2 linked regions of the Homo sapiens genome follow. The protein of the gene in region 2 purifies or fractionates together with the protein of the main gene of each other region. This does not show direct contact. Each region holds a gene or a part of one and is shown on either strand. Other genes may lie near its edges.

The links. The genes of interacting proteins can lie anywhere in the genome.
Region 1: the proteins of EXOC8 (region 2) and EXOC6 purify together in Homo sapiens (affinity purification with mass spectrometry; 5 studies listed by BioGRID and IntAct, with this or other methods). This does not show direct contact.

What each region holds. Positions count from the first base shown.
Region 1 is NC_000010.11:92,851,468-92,855,217, forward strand, and holds part of EXOC6 (exocyst complex component 6), read left to right. Parts: intron 1-3,750. UniProt on the Homo sapiens protein: Component of the exocyst complex involved in the docking of exocytic vesicles with fusion sites on the plasma membrane.
Region 2 is NC_000001.11:231,336,071-231,339,820, reverse strand, and holds the start of EXOC8 (exocyst complex component 8), read left to right. Parts: upstream 1-1,968; 5' UTR 1,969-2,075; coding exon 2,076-3,750. Other genes in the region: DNA-dependent metalloprotease SPRTN, read right to left, coding at 1-52, 1,217-1,437. UniProt on the Homo sapiens protein: Component of the exocyst complex involved in the docking of exocytic vesicles with fusion sites on the plasma membrane.

The DNA of each region.
Region 1 (3,750 bases), on a different chromosome or scaffold from region 2:
AAACCCCGTCCCTACTAAAAATACAAAAAAATATTAGCTGGGTGTGGTAGCACACGCTTGTAATCCCAGCTGCTCGAGAGGCTGAGGCAGGAGAATCGCTTGAATCCGGGAGGCGGAGGTTGCAGTGAGCCGAGATTATGCCACTACTCTCTAGCCTGAGCGACGGAGCGAGACTCCATCTTAAAAAAACAAAAACAAAAACAAACAAAAAAAAAACAAAACCAACCAACTAACCAAACAAACAAAAAAACGGGAGTGAGAGAGGTTACGTGACTATAGATTCTACAGACATTAAAAAAAGGTTAAGAAATATTATGAATAGGCTGAGTGCAGTGGCTCATGCCTGTAATCCCAGCACTTTGGGAGGCTGAAGCAGGAGGATTGCTTGAGCTCAGGCATACAAGACCAGCCTGGGTAACATAATGAGACCTTGTCTCTACAAATACAAAAATTAGCTAAGTGTGGTGGTGTGTGCCTGTGGTCCCAGCTACTCGGGAGGCTAACGTGGGAGAATGGCTCAGAGTCTGGGTCGTTAAGGCTGTAGAGAGCTGAGATTGTGCCACTGCACTCCAGCCTAGGCAACAGAGTGAGACCCCCATCTCAAAAAATGTATATATATTATGAACAACTTCATGCTCATACATTTGGCAACTTAGCAGAAATGGACAAATTAGTTGAAAGATACAAAGTATTATCAAAGTTCACTTAAGAAGAAATAGCTGAATAGCCCTGTATCAATTAAAGAAAGGGAATTTTGCTGTTATAAGCCTTCCCCAAAAGGAAACTCTAGGCCCAGATAGTTTTACTGGTGGATTCTACATCTTTAAGGAAGAATTAATGCCAATTCTACAAAGACTTTTCTGGAAAATTGAAGAGGAGGGAATATTTCCCAGCTCATTTTGAGGTCAACATTAACCTGATACCAGAACTAAAGAAAGAAAGACATAACTAGAAAAGGAAACTAAATCAGTATTCCTCATACACACAGATTTTACAAAAAATTTTAGAGAATTAAATCCATATATGTGGATTTAAAAGTATAAAATACATCTATATAAAAAGTATATTCTGTATATGTATATATGTGTGTGTATATATATGTGAAGAATACATCATGATCAAGTGAGGTTTATTTCAAGAAAGATGCTGGCTTAACATTTGAAAAATCAATGTAACATTGTTCACCATATTAAACAAAGAAAAGTTGTATGATCATATATGTGGAGAAAGCATTGACAAAATCGAATATTAATTCCTGATTTTAAAAACCCTCAGAAACTAGTAATGGAAATTCCTCAGCTTAAAACAGGGCATCTATGAAAATCTAGAGCTAAATTGTGCTTAGTGGTAAGAGTCTGAATGCTTTTCCTCTAAAATCAGGAATGAGGTAAGGATATTCATTCTCACCACTTCTATTCAACACTGTACTAGAATGTTGAATATAAGGCCGGTATAATAAGACCATTTAAAAAAAAAGCATCTAGTTTGGAAAACCGTCTTTATTTGCACACTGTGTGATCAACTATTATAGAAAATCCTGTGGAATGTACAGAAAAGCTACTAGAACTGATAAGTGAGTTTAGCAAGGTTGTAGGAATCAGGTGGATATGCAAAAGCCAATTGTGTTTCTCTGTACTAGCAACAATCAGAAATTGAAATTTAAAATTTGATGGTATCAAAAATATGAAATACTCAGGGATAAATCTGACTAAAGATGTGGAAGACTTGTATGTGAAAAATACAAAACATTGCTGATATAAATTAAATTAACATTGCTGATACTAAACTAAGTAAGTGGACACATACTGTTTTCATGGATTGGAAGACAGTATTGTTAAGATGTCAGTTTTCTCCAACTTAGTCTAGATATTCAAGATAATCTGAATAAATCCCAGCAGAATGAAAATTTATAGAAATTGACAAGCTGATTCTAAATTTCATGTAGAAATGTAAAGGACCTAGATTAGCCAAACTAACTTGGTAAAAGATGAACAGAATTGGAGGACCCATAGACCTGATTTTAAGATTTACTATAAAGCTACAGAAATTAAGACTGTGGTACTAGCATCAAGATAAACAAATAGATCAGTGAAACTTAATAGAAACCACATAAATAGATTAACACAGTCAATTGATTTTCAACAAAGATGAAAAGGCAATTCAGTAGAAAGAGATAGTCTTTTTTAGTAATGGTGGTGGAAAAATTGGATATCCTTACATAAAATAATGAACTTTGATCCATGCTTTGCACCATATTTAGAAATTAACTCAAAATGAACCCAAGACCTAAATGTAAAATGCAAAACTATAAGACTACTAGAAAACATAGGAGGAAATCTTTGTGACTTTAGGATAGGCCAAGATGTCTTAGATACTGTTTGCAAAAGCATAATACATAAGAGAAAAAAATTGATAAATTGGACTTTATTTATTGGACCAGAATTGAGAATATCTAGTCCTTGAAGAAGCTATTGAGGTTGCAGTGAGCCGTGATCATGCCTCTGCACTCCAGTCTGGGCAACAGAGTGAGTCCCTGTCTCAAAAAAAAAAAAAAAAAGGAAAGAAAGAAAAGGTGAGCCACAGATTGGGAGAAGATATTGGCAAATTGCATATCCAATAAATAAATTCTGTCTAGAATGTATAAAGGAAGTGTTTGAGACTGAATAATAATAAAACAACTAAAAAAATGAGGCTGGGTGTAGTGGCTCACACCTGTAATCCCAACACTTTGGGAGGCTGAGGCAGGTGGATCACAAGGTCAAGAGATTGAAACCATCCTGGCCAATGTGGTGAAACTCCGTCTCTACTAAAATACAAAAATTAGCTGGGCTTGGTAGCACACGCCTGTAGTCCCAGCTACTTGGGAGGCTGAGGCAGGGGAATCACTTGAACCTGGGAGGCGGAGGATGCATGAGCCGAGATTGTGCCAATGCACTCCAGCCTGGGCGACAGAATGAGACTCCATCTCAAAAAAAAAAAAAAGACTGACTATACCATGTATTGGTAAGGATGTAGAAGAACTGGCACTCTCATACACTGCTGTGGGAATTCCATAAATGCTGTTTATCAGGTTGAGGAGTTCTCTTAGTTTTCATTATGAAGGGGTGTTGAATTTTATCAGATGCTTTTTTCTGTATCTATTGAGGTGATCATGTGGTTTTGTCCCTTATTCTTTTGATATGGTATATTACATTATCAGATGTAAACCAACTTTGTATTCATGGGATAAATCCCATTTGATCATAGTGCATAAAGTATAATCCTTTTTATATGTTGTTGGATTCTGTTTGCTAGTATTTTGTTGAGGATTTTTGCATGTGTATTCATAAGATATTTTGATCTGTTTTTTGTGTGTGTGTGTGTGATGTCTTTGATATGAGAATGATACCTCATAGAATGAGTTGGTGCTCTCTCAATTGAGATGAGTATTTGGGTTTTTTCCCCCCTTTATTCTATTCATGTGGTACATTACATTGATTGATTTCCTCATGTTTAATTACCCTTGCATTCCTAGGATAAATCTCATTTGGCCATAGTGTATAATCCTCTTTAATATACTGTTGGATTTGGTTTGCTAGTATTTTATTGAGAATTTCTACATCTATATTCATGAGGGATTTCTGTAATTTTTTTAGAGACAAAATCTCACTGTGTTGCCCAGACTGATCTTGTACTTCTGGCCTCAAGCAGTCCTCCTACCTTAGCCTCCCGAGTAGCTGGAATTATAGGCATGAGCCACTGTGCCTGGCA
Region 2 (3,750 bases):
ACGGATGGAACACATTCCACCCTTCCCTTCATAGCTGCATATCCCAGCACACCTAGAAAACAATCACCATAAAAATGTGTTACATTGGCCAAATATGCCCAAGTCCTTACACATTCTTGGGCAGTTCACACTAACTCAGTTGGCAGATGGCTTTCATGAAAGTATACCCCCCTTGGTTAGCAGATACTTGCATTTCACCTAATTAATTAGTTACAACCCCCGCGGGCGCCTCCCGCGATGGCTCCGATCCCCGCCGGGCAAGGAAGGAAAGCAGCGTGCTCTCACCACCCTGCTTGAGAAGGTGGAAGGCTGCAGGCACCTGCTAGAGACGCCAGGACCGTACCTGGTGTACAACGGGGACCTAGTGGAATACGATGCGGACCACATGGCCCAACTGCAGCTCCCCTTGCCCTAGCTAGGCTGCAACAGCTCAAAGGCAATCCTATTCTGCTACTCCCAGTCTCCTTCCGACAAGTTACAGTTCGGTGTTATTAACAAGCAGATATCTCCAGTAGCATATCTCCAAAATCATAACAGACGCCTGTATAAAGGAAATTGGTACTTTAAACACAATTTAATATCATATCTTAATTTGTTTGACAGTAGGTTGTTTTCTATCAACTCAAAAACAAGCATGCTGGGATACAACTGTATCTTAAACTTAACCCTGTTCACGTGCAGGAGTAGATTATTATTTCAAATAGGGATTTCTGAAATTTAGCGTGTAGAAAAAGAATCGTTTTAAAAGCATCACTGAAGATCCCCAATGCAACACACGAGCTAACTAAAGTGGGTTTCCTAACGGGAATAGAGGAGGAGAACACACATCCTTTGGCAGTTACTCTGCGTCCTCAGCACTTTCTTAGGTGCAGATTTGGTTGCTTCTCCCTTCTGGGTCCTACAGCACTATCATAAGGCAAATCAGGAACTTGTTATTTTCAAGTGAAGTGAGATTCAAATAAAAATCTCTTTTTTGTTACGGCCCTGAGTCCAACCGTGGCGGTGTGGTCTACACAGCTTTCTTATTGTTCGAGTGGGAGAAAAGGTAAGGAAGACAGAAACACGCCGAGGCAGGAATTGCCAGGTCCAAAACCAGACTCCCCTCATTTAACGCCCCCTGGGACCGTCGGACTAGAGAAAGGAGAGAAAACCAGGGCCGGGGGCTGCAGGAAAGCTGCCAGTCCCGCCTCTTTCCCCAGCGGGGCTCGGAACTCACAGGGTCATTCGCACGCTCCACTTCACCTCGACGGCCTCCAGCTGGCCCCAGAAGAATTGGTCGTTAAACTGAACAAACAGTGCCTGCAAGTCCGGTGTGGGGTCCACCAACTCCCACGACGCGTCCACTAGCGACAGGGACTCCTGGGCATGATCGCGCTCCGCCTCCTGCAAGTTCCACTCCTCCTGAAGCCGCAGTGCCAACATCAAGTCATCATCCATCGTTGCCAGGATCACAGGCGGGGTCCGCCGGCGTCAGGCTGGCTCCCCAGTTACGCCGCGACCCCAAGCCGCCTAGCCGAGGACCAGGACTAGCTCCTAGGAGATGCCGGCTCTCGAGACGGCCCGTCAATCCCGCGAGAGTTCGCGGAAACGCGCTTGAGAACGAGAACGGAGCTTACCCCAAACGCCGAAGCCAAGATTCTAGGGCTTTAAAAAAAGCAGTCAGCATGACACCTCCTAGTGGGCGCAGAACCTGGGCTCACAGGGCTCGGGCCCTACGAAGCTTTCAGGAAGCTAGTTTCAGCCTTTACTCTTTGCCGGTTATTTCAAACCTCAACGTCACGCTCGGTTCATGCGCAGTACCGAAATTTCTCTCGGCCTCTCCCTCCCCTCACTTCCGCAATAGCTCATCTTGCGCATGCGCTTTAACCGATGGCATTGCTGCGCAGGCGCAATGTCTGCGCTCGGCCCACTTGCGCAGGCGCAGTGTCTGACGCTCAGACCCGGCGCAGGCGTACTCGTCTCGTTCCCATTCCTGCTTCCTCAGCCCAGGAGCTCGGTTGGCCTTGGGTGGGTCTAGACAGCCGCGGCGGCTGCGGCGCCGATAGTGACAGTGAGTGCGTGAGACCCGGAGAGAAATGGCGATGGCGATGTCGGACAGTGGGGCGAGCCGCCTGCGTCGGCAGCTGGAGTCAGGGGGTTTTGAGGCGCGGCTGTACGTGAAGCAGCTCTCGCAGCAGTCGGATGGGGACCGGGACCTCCAGGAGCACCGGCAGCGCATCCAGGCGCTGGCGGAGGAGACGGCGCAGAACCTGAAGCGCAACGTCTACCAGAACTACCGGCAGTTCATAGAGACGGCCCGCGAGATCTCCTACCTGGAGAGCGAGATGTACCAGCTCAGCCATTTGCTGACCGAGCAGAAAAGCAGCCTGGAGAGCATCCCGCTTACGTTGCTGCCTGCCGCTGCTGCCGCCGGAGCCGCCGCCGCCTCTGGAGGGGAGGAGGGAGTCGGTGGGGCGGGGGGCCGAGACCACCTCCGAGGCCAGGCCGGCTTTTTCTCCACCCCCGGGGGTGCCTCCCGCGACGGCTCCGGTCCAGGCGAGGAAGGAAAGCAGCGCACTCTCACCACCCTGCTTGAGAAGGTGGAAGGCTGCAGGCATCTGCTGGAGACGCCGGGACAGTACTTGGTGTACAATGGGGACCTAGTGGAATACGATGCGGACCACATGGCCCAACTGCAGCGGGTGCACGGCTTTCTCATGAACGATTGCTTGTTGGTGGCTACCTGGCTGCCTCAGCGGCGTGGGATGTATCGCTACAACGCTCTCTATTCCCTAGATGGTTTGGCCGTAGTCAATGTCAAGGACAACCCGCCCATGAAGGACATGTTCAAGCTGCTTATGTTCCCCGAGAGCCGTATTTTCCAGGCCGAAAATGCTAAAATCAAACGAGAGTGGCTGGAAGTGCTGGAGGACACCAAGAGGGCCCTCAGTGAGAAAAGGCGAAGGGAGCAGGAGGAGGCAGCGGCCCCTCGAGGGCCACCCCAAGTGACTTCCAAGGCCACTAACCCATTTGAGGATGACGAAGAAGAAGAACCAGCTGTTCCTGAGGTAGAGGAAGAGAAGGTGGACCTCTCCATGGAATGGATCCAGGAGTTACCTGAAGACCTGGATGTCTGCATTGCGCAGAGAGACTTTGAAGGGGCGGTTGACCTGCTGGATAAATTGAACCATTACCTGGAAGATAAACCTAGCCCACCTCCTGTAAAAGAACTAAGGGCCAAAGTGGAGGAGCGAGTTCGACAGCTCACTGAGGTGCTAGTTTTCGAACTCTCCCCAGATCGTTCCCTGAGAGGTGGTCCGAAGGCTACTCGCAGAGCAGTTTCGCAACTGATCCGGCTGGGCCAGTGCACGAAGGCCTGTGAGCTATTTTTGAGAAACAGGGCAGCCGCTGTTCATACTGCAATTCGTCAGCTTCGCATCGAAGGTGCCACTTTACTCTATATTCATAAGCTGTGCCATGTCTTCTTTACCAGCCTTCTCGAGACTGCAAGAGAATTTGAGATCGATTTTGCAGGCACTGACAGCGGCTGCTACTCTGCCTTTGTGGTCTGGGCAAGATCAGCCATGGGCATGTTCGTGGATGCTTTTAGCAAGCAGGTGTTTGATAGTAAGGAGAGCCTCTCTACAGCAGCTGAGTGTGTAAAAGTGGCTAAGGAGCATTGCCAGCAACTGGGTGATATCGGACTGGATCTCACCTTCATCATCCATGCCCTTCTGGTGAAAGACATCCAAGGGGCCTTGCACAGTTACA